2 separate regions of the Homo sapiens genome follow, and region 1 is linked to region 2. Evidence: fine-mapped expression QTL. A gene starts in region 2. The other region holds a variant in brackets. All regions are shown on one strand. Distances are between the middles of the regions.

The links. PIP is the estimated chance that this variant, and not a neighbour inherited with it, causes the effect.
Region 1: its variant is fine-mapped to the expression of SCN1B in unexposed skin (GTEx, PIP 0.98).

Annotation. Positions count from the first base shown.
Region 1 is chr19:35,477,793-35,486,120 of GRCh38, forward strand. No RefSeq gene overlaps it. Among named protein-coding and RNA genes, the nearest start is that of KRTDAP, 8.5 kb to the right of the region's middle. RefSeq lists a silencer at 6,937-7,026. The variant C/G (reference allele first, on the strand shown) is at 4,416.
Region 2 is chr19:35,026,609-35,034,936 of GRCh38, forward strand. It overlaps SCN1B (sodium voltage-gated channel beta subunit 1), which reads left to right and starts at 3,862. Exons shown (of 6, transcript NM_001037.5): 1 at 3,862-4,252; 2 at 5,920-6,086; 3 at 6,891-7,131. The coding sequence starts at 4,213. RefSeq lists silencers at 3,832-3,991, 4,331-4,439.

The DNA.
Region 1 (8,328 bases), 450 kb after region 2:
TTCACTATGTTGGCCAGGCTGGTCTTGGACACCTGACCTCGTGATCCACCTGCCTCAGCCTCCCAAAGTGCTGGGATTACAGGCATGAGCCACCATGCCCACCCCTGCCCCTCCCCCCCGCTTTTTTTTTTTTTTTTTAAGCCAGGGTCTGGTTCAGACTGGAGTGTAGTGTTGCCATCATAGCTCACTGTAGCCTTGAACTCCTTGGGCTAAGTGATCCTCTCACCTCAGCCTCCCAAGTAGCTGGGGCTACAAGCATGCACCACCATGCCTGGCTAATTTTTTCATGATTTTTTGGAGAAACAGGGGTCTCACTATCTTGCAGAGGCTGGTCTTGAACTCTTGGCCTCAAATGATCCACCTGCCTTGGCCTCCCAAAGCACTAGGATTATAGATGTGAACCACTGCACCCAGCCAACACAAGAAACTAAAATAGTTAAAAATTCTAGGGCTCTGAAATCTAATAGAACCTGAGTTGAAAGCCTGGCTCTGCTATTTCTTCTGTGGGTGCTCTTAGGAAAGTCACTTCATCTTTATGGGCCTCAGTTTCCTCATCTGTCAGAAGAGAGCAAGTGAATACAGTTGCAAATATTATTTCTCTAAGTATGACTCTATCTGAGTCATTATCTAAGTGGAGTTTTATAGCATAATAATAACAGCTACCTTTTATTAACATGAAAAAATCTAGGCTAACATTTACTGAGGTTTTCTAAACCCTTGTGAAGTATTGCTATTATTCCCACTTTACAAATGATGAAACTTTGGCCCTGACAGAGTAGCCACCCAGAGGTCACGTAGCTAGTAAAGTGGTAGGAACAGAATTTGAAATCAGGTCTGACTGATTTTATAACTCATATTCTAACCGCTAAGTTGTACCACCTTAAATGCCTCCAGCGGATACTTAGCAGTGGTTTCCAAACATTTTTTAAGGAATGGAAACATTTTTTTTTTCAAGCAAAGTCTTAAATGAAACAGTAGGTTATAAAGCAAGTGAAGGCCAAATTACACCAGTTAAAGCAGGGATAATGCAGGTACGGGTTCAATCCTGGCTCTGCCGGGTCCTGGCTGTGTGAGCTTGAACAGATTACAGTCTCCGTCATCACTTAATGGTGGAGATACGTTTTGAGAAATGAAGAACAGCAGAGTGCACTTACACAAACCTTTATCGTATCGCCTACTCCACACCTAGGCTGTGTGGTATAGCTTATGGCTCTTAGGCTGCAAACCTGCCCAGCATGTCACTGGACTGAATGCTGCAGGCAACTGTAACACAATAAGCATTTGTGTTTCTAAACATAGAAAAGGTACAGTACAAATATGATATAATCTTTTGGGACCACTGTTGTTTATGCCGTCTGTTGTTGACCGAAACGTCATTATACAGAGCATGACTGTACTTATCTCTCTGAGATTCAATTTCTTTGTTTGTAATATGGGGATAATGATGCCAACCTAATAGGTTTGTTTTGCGGATCAACTGAGATAATATATGCAAAGCACTTGGCATAAAGCCTGGCGCGTGATAAGAACCAAATTAAGAATGGCTGCTATTGAATTGTGGCTGTGGCTGTTACCACCTTCGGGACTGTCTTTACTGACGATGGGATTGAGTGGAAATTTTTCAGCCCCCCATCATCTGACCCAACCTGCATTTCCAGGCCTCCACGCCTACGGGATAGCCCGGCTGAATGACAGCGTTCCCAGTCCAGAATCCCGCACTACCAGTTCTTCGTGCTCTGCCCACTGGAGGGCCCTCTTCCCCCCTCCCTCCTCTAAAAGCATACTCTGGAAATTTTTTGAATATTTTAAGAAACTGTTATTGTAGAATATTTCAAAATTTGCAAAAATAAAAAGCTAGTATAATGAACCTCGTTTTTTATTAGGTAATTACCGACCTTATTTCTTGTGTACCCCAACCTGTTCCCCCCACTGGATTATTTTGAAGCAAATCCTAAAGAGTTTATTACTTCAGACATAGATTTATCATTAGGTATCTGCAAGGTAAAGACTCTTTTTTAACATAACTACAATAATATTTTCACATCTAAAAATATAATTTCTTTTTATTTTTTTTATTGTTTCTTTTTTTTAATTTTTTTTTTAGAGACGGAATCTCACTATGTTGACCAGGCTGGTCTTGAACTCTTGGACTCAAGCAATCCACCCACCTCGGCCTCCCAAATCAAAGAGCTGAGATTACAGGCGTGAGCCGCCATGCCCAGACCAAAGATGATAATGTCTTATTATCAATATGTCCGTGTTCAGGTTTCCTTCGTTGTCTCCTAAATCTTTTTCTCTCCCAGTTGGTTTGTTCAAATTAGGATATAGACAAGATTCATATGTTGCATTTAAGTGATGGGTCCCTTCAATCAACTTTTTTTTGAGACTGAGTCTTATTCTGTCACCCAGGCTGGCATGCAGTGGCACAATCTTGGCTCACTGCAACCTCTGGCTCCCAGGTTCAAGACATTCTCCTGCCTCATCCTCCCGAATAGCTGGAAATAACAGGTGTGCACCCCCACGCCCGACTAATTTTTGTATTTTTAGTAGAGACAGGGCTTCACCATGTAGGCCAAGCTGATTTTGAACTCTTGACCTCAGGTGATCCACCCCCCTCGGCCTCCTGAAGTGGTGGGAATACAGGTGTGAGCCACCATGCCCGGCCTCATCAATTTTTATCTTTTTTTCCCCTTTCCCTTTTTTTCTACAGTGGCTTTTTTTTTTTTTGGATGGAGTTTCGCTCTTGTTGCCCAGGCTGGAGTGCAATGGTGCAATCTCGGCTCACTGCAACCTCTGCCTCCTCCTGGGTTCAAGCAATTCTCCTGCCTCAGCCTCCCAAGTAGCTGGAATTACAGGCATGTGCCACCACACCTGGCTAATTTTGTATTTTTAGTAGAGACAGGGTTGCTCCATGTGGGTCAGGCTGGTCTCGAACTCCTGACCTCAGGTGATCTGCCCACCTCAGCCTCCCAAAGTGCTGGGATTATAGGCGTGAGTCACCGTGCCCGACTCTTCTACAGTGTTTTTGTTGAAGAAGCTGGATTATCAGTTTTCTAGAATTTCTCACAGGAAATGCCAAGGTTGGGGGGAGTTATTAACATCTTTCCTGTAGAATCCTTTACTGTGTTCCTCTGTGCCTTTTCATCCCCCTGCAAACTGGTAGTTAGATCTAGAGTCTAGAGTTTTAATCAGGTTTGGAGTTGATTTTTGGCAAGAATGCTTCCTATGTGGGGCCCTGTGCTTTCTGTTGCATCAGGTCTGCAGAAGCTTGTCTCTTCTCTCTCTGGGTGTTGGATAGATACATGGGTTCACTGGTTGTGAGCCTGATCCACCACCATAAATTTCCCCATCAGCATTTCACCTGCCGGGTTTGGCAGTCATTAATGTGAAGGGATTAGCATGTGCTACTCCAAAGTATGCTGCTTTAGCATAAGGATTATTTTGAGTAGAAGGCAATTAAGAAGCAGCAGACAGAAGAGGAACTCTCTGTCCTCTCCCTTTCTGCCTAAAGCAGGGTATACATTTCCCATCAGGTAGAGGAGATAACTCAACGCTGGAGACTTGAATCTGCATAAGCAAATCTTGCTAAATAACCCTTTATCTTCCATTAATTTCCCCTGTATATTTTACTTACCTTCCCACAATTTACATCACCTGGATGTCCAAATCCCTTTTTCACCGTTTTGTCACTTTTCCACAATTTTTTTTTTTTTTTTTTTTAGACAGAGTCTCACTCTGTCGCCCATGCTGGAGTACAGTGGTGTGATCTGGGCTCACTGCAACCTCTACCTCCCAGGTTCAAGGGATTTTCATGCCTCAGCTCCTGGGTAGTTGGGATTACAGGTGTGCACCACCACACCTGGCTAATGTTTTTGTATTTTTAGTAGAGATGGGGTTTCACCATGTTGGCCAGGCTGGTCTCGAACTCCTGACCTCAAGTGATCCGCTTTCCTCAGCCTCCCAAAGTGCTGGGATTACAGGCATGAGCCACCATGCCCAGCTTACTTTTCCACGATTTATCACCCTTTGTTAAAACGGTATATGAGCCTCAAGCCTGGCCACTTCTTTAGGTTTTCACTTCTTTTCTGTGAAGCTCCTGGATGCATGCATAATAAGCCTTTTCTCCTGCTAATCTATCTTTTGTTAATTTTTTTTTTTAAGATGGAGTCTCACTCTGTCGCCCAGGCTGGAGTACAGTTGTGTGATCTCGGCTTACTGCTACCTCTGCCTCCCAGGTTCAAGCAATTCTCCTGTCTCAGCCTCCTGAGTAGCTGGGACTACAGGCATGCGCCACCATGCCCAGCTAATTTTTGTATTTTCAGTAGAGATGGCGTTTCACCATATTGGTCTGGCTGGTCTCGAACTCTTGACCTCAGGTGATCCACCTGCCTCGGCCTCCCAAAGTGCTAGGATTA[C/G]AGGCATGAGCCACTGTGCCTGGCCTCTTTTGTTAATGTAATTAGCATGCCACAGCCACTGAACCTAAGACAGTAGAAAAAAATGTTTTTTTCCTTCCCTACAGATGCTAGCCTACATTCATTATTTTATTAAATTTTGAAAAACGAAAATATTCTATTATTTCTTTTGCATTTATTAGTTTCAAATTCTCGTATAAAGAAAAATTGTGCCAGCTGGGCATGGTGGCGCATGCCTGTAATTTCAACACTTTGGGAGGCCAAGGCCAGAGGATCACTTGAGGTCAGGAGTTGAAGACCACCCTGGGCAACATAGCAAGACACCCATCCTACAAAAAATTTAAAAATATACCAGGTGTGGTGGCTTGTGCCTGTAGTTCCAACTACTCAGGAGGCTGAGGCAGGAGGATTGCTTGAGCCAGGGAGGTGAAGGCTGCCTCCAGCCAAGATCATGCCACTGCACTCCAGCCTCGGTGAAAGAGCAAGACGCTGTCTCAAAAAAAAAAAAAAAAAAAAAAGAGAGAGAGAGAGAAACTGTTTACCCTGAAGTATATAGTTCATAGAGGAAAGTAAGGATGAATCCTTGATTCATTTCCTTTATTTACCAGTTTTTTAAATGAGTTGATTCCCAGAAGCCTCCCAAAGTAATCACTTAGTTTGGCTTTGGTTTTTAGTCCCTTTATGTCCTGGCTGAGTATGACAGGGACTTTTTTTTTTTTTAAGTTCATTTATGAATGCCAAATTCAAAGTTACTTTCCCCAGTTTTCTTACCCTGGTGCAAAACTATCTCCTCCCTTCTGTCAGATTTAAACATATCGTTCTAAGGTATCTAGTGCCTTCTCCCTGGATGCTTCCTTTATCGTAAGTATCAACTGGATCATAACTCCTTGAAGGCCTTCTGCATAGCACTCAACATCATGCCCAAGGCCGTGCTTCTCAAACGTTATTCCACATGTGAATCATCCAGGGGCAGGGGTCTTGTTAAAATTCTGATGCATTAGCTCTGGGTGAGCAGAGCTTCTGCATTTCTAGCAAGCAAGCACCAAGTGATGCTGATGCCGCTGGCTCGGGGACCACACTCTGAGTAGCAAAAGGGTGTGGTAAATGTGAGAAATCAGTTTCATTCATTCAGTTAAGAGGCACCTACTCTGGGTCACTGCATGGACTAGGCCCTACCACTTTACAGTGCAAAGCGTTTTTTTGGTGTTTGTTTGCTTTACTAGAAAGTTTTGATTTTAATTTATTCTTTTGAATATGTAATTTGCACATGGTAAAACATTTTTGTTCATAAAATCCAAAAGGGTACACAGTGAAAGTATCTAACTTTTCAAAAGTTATCACTGTTACTTCTCAAGTTTTATTCCAGATAATAGCAGATAATATGCAGATAATAGCATATATTTGTACCATATCTTTATTTTAACCACATGGCAGCATAATGATCTGCCACTTTCTTTTTTTCATTTTACTCTATCTTGGAGATTGTTTCATAGCTCAGTGTATATCTCTACATCCTGTTGAACAGATGGTATAGTATCCACACAAGATTCATTTGTTGGCCAGGCATGGTGGTTCACACCTGTAATCCCTGCACTTTGGGAGTCCAGTGCAGGCGGATCACCTGAAGTCAGGAGTTCAAGACCAGCCTGGCTGACGTGGCAAAACCCCATCTCTACTAAAAATACAAAAATTAGCCGGACATGGTGGCGGGCACCCATGTAGAAGATGTAATTCCATCTTCTCAGGAGGCTGAGGCAGGAGAATCGTTTGAACCTGGGAAGCAGAGGTTGTGGTGAGCCAAGATTGCACCACTGCACTCCAGCCTGAGCAACAGAGTGAAACTCCGTCTCAAAAAAAAAAAATGCATTTGTTATTGTTTTTATAAAGTATAAAATGAAGAGTGACTACTTCCTGCCTTTTATTAAATAAAGGTTATTTAATAAGATTTGCTTATGCAGATTCAAGTCTCCAGTGTTGAGTTATCTCCTCTACCTGATGGGAAATGTACAGGTCATCCCCAGGGAGAACAGGTGCTATGTCTTCCATTCTTTGAATCCTCTGAATGGCCTGACCCATGTTTGTGCATTTTGTCAATTTCACATGATCTAGCTAGTATACATCTGTCACTCATGTGCACAGCTTGTCTACACTTCACTTTGTCTTTTTCTTTTTGGTTCAGATTGCAGTCTCTCTAGACTCCAATTGTTTCTTGACTGTGTATTCTGTCAGCACTTGCAAATTGATCTGGTGTTCTCTGGCTTTAATAATATGTTATTGTGAAATACAACATGCATAGGTGTGCATAAAATGTACATATTTAAAGAAGAAATGAAACATGATATAGAAGTGGCTTCTGTCACACACCGTCCCCCCTTATCTCCTATGTGCCACTCTCCTATCACATGGGATCTCTCCATCTAAGGGGCAACTACTATCCTGATTCTGGGTTAATCTTAAGTTCTCTGACGTTCCTTTTTGAAGTGGTTCTCAGACTTTAGTGAATCAGACTTGCTTAGAGGGCTTGTCAAAACACAGATTGCTGGGCCCCACCCCTGGTTTCGCACTTAGTAGATCTGAAGTGGGGCCCAAGAATTTGCATTTCTTTTCAGTTCCCAGGGGATCCTGGTGCTGCCAGCGTGGGGACCACACTTTGAGAACTACCGCCTTATCTCAGAGATACTCTTAACTTGTGTATCGTGACTCCTAGTCCCCTGGGGATGCTTTACTCCTCCCCTAAAACCTAGTCACTCGATGGGTGTCCCTTAAGCACCTCCCCTCTTCTTCCTGTACTCCATTTCCTATCACCTAGTTTGTGAGTGCACAATCTTCACTAAGTATTTCAACTGATTGTGGCATTTCACCAGTGTCCATAGTTTTCTTCTCTGTTGGTTATTCCATTTATAGCTTTCCTCTCCTTTGTGTGTATTGGAAGGAAGAGCATAAGCAACTTTTTTTTTTTTTTTGACAGAGTCTTGCTCTCTCACCGAGGCTGGAGTGTAGTGGTACAATTTTGGCTCACTGCAACCTCCGCCTTCCGGATTCAAGCGATTCTCGTGCCTCAGCCTCCTGAGTAGCTGGGATTACAGACATGCATCACCACACCCGGCTCAGTTTTGTATTTTTAGTAGAGATGGGGTTTCACCATGTTGGCTAGGCTGGTCTCGAACTCCTGACCTCATGTGATCCGCCCACCTAATTTTGTGTTTTTAGTAGAGATGGGGTTTTGCCATGTTACCCAGGCTGGTCTCAAACTCCTGACCTCAAGGGATACACCCACCTTGGCCTCCCAAAGTGCTGGGATTACAGGTGTGAGCCACCGTGCCCGGCCAGGAACATTTACATGTCTCATTCACCTGGTCTGTAAGCGCCTTGAAAGTAGGAACCAAGTTTAATTTCCCTTGTAGTCCACTTCCTCGATTAAACTGCAGTTGATGGTTTACAAACGCAGTTGCTTATAAAGGCCAAAGGCAATGTAAACAAGTGAAGCTTGCCAAGTAGAAAGTTCCCTGGAAGCCATGTCCTGTGTAAAGAGGGCAGCTGCTACTTGGCTTTAAGCCAGTCGCAGGTCCACTGTTCTCTAATCTTCCCAGTTTTCAAGAGAAACCAGAAACAATTCCAACTAGTTTAGTATTTTAAGTACACAAATTGGGTCAGAGAAAATACATCTACAGGAAGCAAAACTAAATCCATTTCATGTTTCAAGATCTTTGCAGTGGATGGATGGATGGATGGATGGATGGATGGATGGATGGATGGATGGATGGATGGGTGGGTGGATGGGTGGATGGGTGGGTGGATGGCTGGGTGGATGGATGGATGCGCGAGTGAATGAGTGAATCTGGATCATTGCGGCTGCTCTCTGGTTGAAACTGGGGGAGTAGAGATACACTATCTACTATATGCCTGGCCGTGTGCA
Region 2 (8,328 bases):
TACACAAGCTTTACATCATCTGAGGTCAACGCAGGAACTCCGGGGACAGACCGTGGTAGCTGGAGTTCAAATCCTGCTTCCTAGCAGTGGTGTAAATGCAGCAGGTCAGCCCCCTGGAGCTCCAGTGAGCTTTCCTGTGCAATGGGTAGAATGGCAGTAGCTGTCTCTCAGGGTTGTTAGAAGGCAGTGGTTCTCAAACTTGAGCTGCATTCGAATCTCCTGGAGAGCTTGATGAAAAACAGACTGTGGGCCCCTCCCTCCAAATTTCTGGTTCAGTAGGTCTGGGGCAGGGCTGGGATTCTGCCTTTATAACGAGTTCCCAGGAGTTGCTCATGGTGCCATCCCAGACGACACTTTGGTTTTTTGTTTGTTTGTTTTAAGTTAGGGTCTCTGTCGCCCAGGCTGGAGTGCAGTGGCACAAACATGGCTCACAGCAGCTTCGACCTCCTGTGCTCAAGCCATCCTCCCACCTCAGCCTTCTGAGTAGCTTGGACTACAGGTGTAAGCCACCACGCCCGGCTAATTTTTTATTTCTTTTTGGAGATGGGATCTCACTGTGTTGCCCAGGCCAGTCTTGAACTCCTGGCCTCAAGCGATCCTCCCGCCTCAGCTTCCCAAAGTGTTGAGATTTCAGGCGTGAGCCACCACGCCCAGCCCCAGACCACACTTTGAGAACCACTATTATAGGTTCAAGGAGTTCATAAATGTGGCTACTTATAACAGGGCCCGGCACAGATGGAATGGAGTAAGTATTCAATAAATGTTACACTTATTGCATAAAAATAGAGGGAAAAAAGTAACTCGCGTAGTGAGTACCAAGTACGTACGTACCCAGCTCTGTGCCAAGATCTGATGTTCATTTTATTCTCACAGTGATTCCATGAGGTGGAGACAAAGATGTACACGCCCGAGGCTACCCAGCAGGGAGGCAGACTCCAGGCCTGACCCCTGGGGTCTCCACATTTACATGCAAGGTCCTAACCCCCTCAGGACCCCACCACAGCCCATTCAGGCTGACGTTGGTTGGATTCCTGTTTTACAGATGAGGAAATGAGCTTGGAGGCAAAGTCCCTGGTCCAGAAAGAACCCAGGTCCACCTCACGCAAACCTTGTCCTGGTTCCAGAGGGAGTATGTGGGGTAGAGACACCTTTGGCATGTCACACCCCCGGCTATAAGAATCATCCTAACTGATGGCTTGGAGCAGGGGACTGGAGGAGGGTTTGGAGAGTGGATCAGGAGTGGCATAGGAGGCAGAGCCAGCCTCTCCTATCCTCTAGTTGTGTGATCATGGCAAGGTACCCATGCTGAGCCTCAGTCTTCTATATCTGTAATATGGGTGTAATAATAATACCACCTATAGGAAAAATTAAATGAGCTAATGTTAGTAAAGTGCTTAGAATGCTTAGAACAGCACCAAGCCCATACATAGTAGGTGCTCACTGAACATAGCTTATAGGGCCGTGAGGTGCCTCCTGTCCAGTGCTGAGGCCTGTCCTCACTGTGCCTTCACCTACCATCCCCCACCAGTGGAAGGGCCCGGAACAGCAAGAGGGTTATTCTCTGCAGGGGAATTTCACAGCTCAGAAGGTGCTGGCGTAAAAGTCTAGACCACAGAGGTGTCGGATGTCCCTGGCTCCCTGCCCCTCTGCCATGGTCCTGCCCCACACCCTGGCTCCTCTTGCCTGGCAGGGCTGGGCCAGGGGGATTCTGAGACCTTACCCCACCCGGAATTGGAGGCTAGGATCTGGGTAGTGACCCTTCAGCCGAGAGTCTCACTCCCACCCTGGTCCTGACAGCCCAGAACTCCCATCTCCATTCTCTCAATTTGGCAGAACCTACTGGTAGGACAGGCCACTCACCACTGCTGGGGCAGGATTCCACATCCATCCTAGGCCAGCTACATGACTCTGGGCAGGGGCACGGCCCTCTCCCAGCCTCAGTTTCTTCATCTGTAAAATGGGGATAATAGAACTTGCTGAAGGTTTGGGGCAGTAGAAGTGGGTTCTGCAAATCCCAAGGACTTAGTGAACATTGGCATTCATTTATTTGTTTGACAAATATTGATTGAGTACCTACAATGTGCCAGGAACAGTTCAAGGTGCAAGAGACACAAGACAATATCCTCACCTGGGAGATTTTTTTTTTTTTTTTTTTTTTTTTTTTTTACATGGAGTCTCACTCTGTCACCAGGCTGGAGTGCAGTGGTGTGATCTCGGCTCATTGCCACCTCTGCCTCCCGGGTTCAAGCGATTCTCCTGCCTCAGCCTCCTGAGTAGCTGGGACTACAGGCATGTGCCCCCACGCCCAGCTAATTTTTGTATTTTTAGTAGAGATGGGGTTTCACCATGTTGGCCAGGATGGTCTCGATCTCTTGACCTCGTGATCCGCCCACCTCGGCCTCCCAGAATGCTGGAATTACAAGCGTGAGCCACTGCGCCCGGCCTTTTTTTTTGAGACGGAGTTTCGCTCTTGTTGCCCAGGCTGGAGTGCAGTGATGCGATCTTGGCTCACTGCAACCTCTGCCTCCCGGGTTCAAGCGATTCTTCCTCAGCCTCCCAAGTAACTGGGATTACAGGTGCCCACCACCACTCCCAGCTAATTTTTTTTGTATTGTTAGTAGAGACGGGGTTTCACCATGCTCGTCAGGCTGGTCTCGAACTCCTGTCCTCAGGTGATCTGCCCCCCTTGGCCTCCCAAAGTGCTGGGATAGCGGGGGGCGGCTCACATCTGTAATCCCAGCATGGTCAACATGGTGAAACCCTGTCTCTACTAAAAAATAAAAAAATTAGCCAGGCATGATGGTGCACACCTGTACTCCCAGCTACTTGGGAGGTTGCGGCAGGATAATCGCTTGAACCCGGGAGGCGGAGGTTGCAGTGAGACGAGATCAGCCACTGCACTCCAGCCTGGGCAACAGAGCCAGACCCTATCTCAAAAAAAAAAAAAAAAAAAAAAAAAAAAAAAGAACATAATGTCAGGTAGTGAGGCTGCTGTGGAAAACACTCAACAAGAGGTAAAGAGTAAAGGAGGTCAGGTTAGGAGCGGGGAAGGCAGTTTACCCTGAAGGGACACAGAAGACCTGACGAAGGTGACATTGGAGCCATGGAGGCCCACGGAGAGGGGCGGGGCAGGGGGGGAGAGCCGGGGCAGAGGGGAGAGCTGGGGCCAAGGCCCTGAGGCAGGAACGGGTTCCCTGTGTTGGGAACAGCAGGAGGGCCTGAACAGCCAGAGTGGAGTGGGAGGAAAGAGGGGTAGAAGGTGACATCAGGGACATAAATGGGTGCAGGGGATCACGAAGGGGTCCTCCTCCTGAAACAGCACCTCCAGATTCCCGGGGCTGCTTCTCTCCAGGGTGCCCCGCCTGCTTGGGTGAGGTCCGGATTGTAGCTGTAGTCCTAGCCTGACGGCCCCCCACCCTCCTCTAATGCCTACTTGGGGTCCCTGCACATTGACCCCCAGGCCTGGATATCAGGGCTCAGGGGAGATAACTTGGAGGTTCGCCCTCTGGAACTCCTGAGGATGACCTCCATCATTTGAAGTCGGAAACCCGGCCCCCAAACTGCGCTCTAAGTCCTCCTGTGACTCTGGGGGTGACCTTTCCAGACTCCCTGGGAAGGTGGGGGGGGGGGGGTGGTCCTCAGAGCCCCAGCGGGGTCGGAGACACACAGACCACCCTCCCCGTTCCCAGAAGTCGCGGTCCCTGCGCCACCCGGAGAGGCCGGTGCAGCGGGCGCCTCCCGGGCCGCTGCGGCAAAGGCTGGGCGGCCGCGCCTTCCCCCCGCGGTGATTCATCCCGCCCCCTCCCTCTCCTCCCTCGTCCCTCCCTAGGCCGCCGCCGCCGCCGCCGCCGCCGCCGCTGCAGTGCGCAGGAGACCGCGGTCCGCGCCCGAGCGCGCCCGAGCCGGAGCGGGACCGGGGTCGGTGCACCTAGCGGATGTGCCCGGCTGCGCGCGCCAGCGCAGCAGCCCGAGCAGCGGCCGCCGCCCGCGCGGCGGGGATGCCCGGACGCCGGGCCCCGGGGCTGGGCCCCCGGCGGTAACCGGAGCGGGGGGGCCGCGCCCCCCCTCCTCCCCCCTCGCCGGTCCCAGAGCCGCAGCTGCTGCGCCCGCGCGCTCCCGGGGACATTCTAACCGCCGCCAGGTCCCGCCGCCTCTCGCCCCGCTATTAATACCGGCGGCCCGGGAGGGGGGCGCAGCACGCGCCGCGCAGCCATGGGGAGGCTGCTGGCCTTAGTGGTCGGCGCGGCACTGGGTGAGTGCGCGGGGGGCGCGCGCGGCCGGGGGGCACCGCGGGGGCACTGGCGGGGCGGCGGGAGTGGCGCTCGGGACACGGGGCAGCCGCGCGAGGGCCACCCCCGGCCCATCCCCGGGCCCCGCCAAGTCAGCTTCAGAAGTTGTGCGCGCGGGAGCCGGGCTTGGGGAGGGCAGTGGAGGTGAGGGTGGGCTCCAGCGGGTGGGGGCCGGGCTGGCACAGCCTGGCGGCTGCAGGCGCCCAGCCGGGGGCGAGGAAACGCGGAGTCAGCTGCTCCCGGAGCCCCGCAGGCTGCAATGTGACACCCACAGCCGCGGGAGGGGGGTGGGGGGAAGGCGGCGCCCGGAGACTGGGACGGGAAAGACGGAGGGACAGGGAGAGATGAAGACGGGAGGAAGGGGGCGAGAGACAGAGAAGGACTCGGAGCGCACCGGAGTGGTCCGCTGGGATGCTGGGGACATGGGGGTCAAGGGGGAGACGGAGACAGAGAGAGGGGTATTGGAGAGAGAGAGAGAGAGAGAGAGTTAAGAGACTGAGCGCGATGGAGAAAGGGAAACTTGAGAAAGGCAGAAGGAGATGGAGAGAAGAGAGAGGGAGATGCGGGTGCCCGTGAACACCGGGAGAGAATCTTGCATGGAGTTTGAAAAGGGATAGACGTAGAAAGGTGGAAAGAGATTAGGAGAGGTCTCCTTCTGAGCCCAGAGAGTGGACAAAAAGTGGAGGGACCTTCAGAGAGACCCCTGAGAGGGACAAAGATAGGAGGGACTGAGACAGAGGCCCTCAGGGAGTCTGAAAGGGACCGCAGGGGAGGCGGATGGATGAGAAGTCCTGAGGATCAGGAAACAAGGACAGCACAGGGCTGCAGCAGAAGAGACACAGCGTTAGCTACAGAGTGCTGGGAGGCAGAAAGGAGGTGCCAGGTAAGAGTGTGAAGGAATTCTAAGACTGGAATTCAGTGGGCTGCAAAAGCCCTGGGGCAGGAGAGAGCTCAGGAAAGCTTTGAGTAGTGGATGGGGTTGGGGTGGGAAGAGCTCTAGAGGCGAGGAGCCTGGGGAAGAGGGGATGATGGAGGCAGGAGAGGCCGGGGAGGGGATGGCTCACACAGGGGCTTGTGGGCTGTGGAGAGGGGCTGAGTGTGGGTCAGCCCCGGTTTCAGTGCCCACCTCCCCACAATCCCCCACCCCCAGACCTTTTCTCCCAACCCATTTCTCCTGGAGCTAGCTGGTTTTACAATTTAATGGTGAAAATGACTGCCACCTTAAACTTCTAACTTAGCTGGAATTCTCATTCTACCACCTAGATGCTTGGGTTCCTCCAGCAAGGGACTTTCTGAGGAAGGGGCACTCGGGTAGCATAAAGTCTGAGTTACCGGCAACGTTGACAGTCCCACTTATGGGGCCTCCCATGTACAAGGCCCTACCTAATGTATGAAAATGGGCCCAGCCATTGCTGGAAGCAAAGGACCATTTCTTTCAACAAGAGAGAGGGAAACTGAGACTCAGGGATGAATGACTTGCTGAGGTCACGCAGTGAGTGACAGGGCTCAGCCTAGCATCCAGTCCTGTCTGCTGGTAATCATTGAGGGGGGAACAGATGGTTTGTGAGGGGTCTGGCATTGCTTAGGGCAATGGGTGCCTCTGCCTGACCTGAGCCTGCTGTCCCCACAGTGTCCTCAGCCTGCGGGGGCTGCGTGGAGGTGGACTCGGAGACCGAGGCCGTGTATGGGATGACCTTCAAAATTCTTTGCATCTCCTGCAAGCGCCGCAGCGAGACCAACGCTGAGACCTTCACCGAGTGGACCTTCCGCCAGAAGGGCACTGAGGAGTTTGTCAAGGTGTGCGGGTGCCGGGAACGGGCATGGGAGGGCAGGGGTCCACGAGTGGGAGGCGGTGGGGCTGGATCTCAGGGAGGGGGCTTATTTGTTTAATAATATGCTGTGATTGCTGACCTGGATTCAGATTCTGGCTCCACCAGTGGCCAGCTGGTGACCTTGGCCAAGTCAGTGAGCCTCTCTGAAAGTCAGTTTCCTCCTCGGTAAAGACGGGGTGGCGGTGGTCTCTAGCCCATAGGTTTGTGTGAGGACTGAATGCATTGACGCACCTGGCACACGGTTGGCATGAAATAAATGTCAGTGGACTTATTTGGCACCAGCAAACAATGTCTCTGATAGTCATTACGGAGGGAAGACAGAACTGTTTTTTTTAACCTCCTTTAAACTATGTGTGTATTTTGCATTATATATCGGTGAGGGAACCATAAAATTCTGTGACGTGCTGGAGAGTTGGGGTCTCCAGCTGCTGGAATCAGGCTGCCCTGTCTCTGCTGGAGGAGTGTGTCTGGTGGCTGGGAAAGAACGGCAGAGAATGATAGCCTAGAGGCCAGATGGGGCTTGGGAGGATGACTGAGGAACGTGTGTGTGCTCGTGTGCATCTTGGCTAGAGGCAAAAGCGGGGTCTGGTTGACTCCAGGCGTGATCCTAGCCCCCCACCCCTGTGCCCTCCCTGCCTGAGGTCAAGGTGTCTGAGCCCATCTGTGTGCCATCTGTGTTTGTGGGTGTCAGGGCAGGGGACAGAATCAGGGTCAGGTAAGGGAAGAGAGGCCCAGGCAGTGACACCTTCCCCTCCCTGGCTACCCCTAGATCCTGCGCTATGAGAATGAGGTGTTGCAGCTGGAGGAGGATGAGCGCTTCGAGGGCCGCGTGGTGTGGAATGGCAGCCGGGGCACCAAAGACCTGCAGGATCTGTCTATCTTCATCACCAATGTCACCTACAACCACTCGGGCGACTACGAGTGCCACGTCTACCGCCTGCTCTTCTTCGAAAACTACGAGCACAACACCAGCGTCGTCAAGAAGATCCACATTGAGGTAGTGGACAAAGGTGAGTCGGGTGCTGCCTGCCCCTTTACCGTCACCCACCGGAGAGCCAGATGGAGGGACAGATGGCAGGCAGTGGACAGGACAGGCTGGCTCTGTGCCTGGCCAGCCAACCGCCCACAGCAGCGGGCTGAGGGGGAGGGGAGCAGCCCCTCCTGCCCACTCCAGCTCTGGCCTCTGTTTCTCTCCAGCCCACGGAGAGGTCAAAGCATGCCTGTCCCCCACAGACGCTCCGGGTACAGAACCCAGCTCTGTCACCTGTGCTGTATGACCTCTGGCAGGTGCCTTCTGTCTCTGAGCCAAAGGGTTGTCCTGGGCTTGCCCGGGATAATAATCCGATGTGTTTCTCGGGGTGTGGTTTGAGCCATTCTTCCATCATGGGGTTCATGAGGATTGAGCAGCTGCAGGCACACGCCTGGCTTCCAGCAGAGCCTTGCAGGTGGTGGCGAGGGTGGCGGTTCTTACTGTTCGAGTAGCTCAGCCCTGCTGCCCTCTGTGGTGATGAGGCAAGAGAGCGTGCCACCTAGAGCAGAGTTCCGCACACCCCTCTGCACTCCTGCCCCGGGGGAGCCGCGCTGGCCTGCAGTCTCACTCAACACCTCTGGGGCGGGCCTAGGGGTCCTTTCTAAAGCTCTCAGGTGAGGCAGTGAAGGGCCACAGGTGCGGGGCCCACCCTCTGAGCAGCAAGGGCCTACAGCGCTTTTGAACGTCTCATCATTTTGCCTCAGCCACCCTGGACCCCTTTTCTGAGGGAGGTCCGCCCCTTCTCTGATCCATCTTCTGCTCAGCATCAATTGCAATTGTCCAGCGCCCTGTGGCCACTGGCTTAGAGTTGGGGAAACAGCCCAGGCCTTGAAGCAGCTACAAGCCGTGGCAGAAAGGTCTCTCAGGGCCACGGCACACACATCCTCATGGGCAACACGCACTGCCCATCTTTTCTGTGAGATGGGTGCCGGCCTCAGTGCCTTACACGGAGTCCCTTAGTGAATCCTCTCCCCACCCTCTGGGGTAGGGGCTCTTCCTATCCCCATTTTACGGATGAGAAAACCAAGGCTCAGGGAGGGAAGGTTATGTGGCCAAGGTCATGTGATTGGGAGCTGGACTTGAATCCAGAGGAGCTTGGGTGACTGTGTTTCTGTTCTTGGCATGATTCACTGTACTCTGTGATCAGCCAGAGCCTGTGGGTTTCTTTTTATAATTA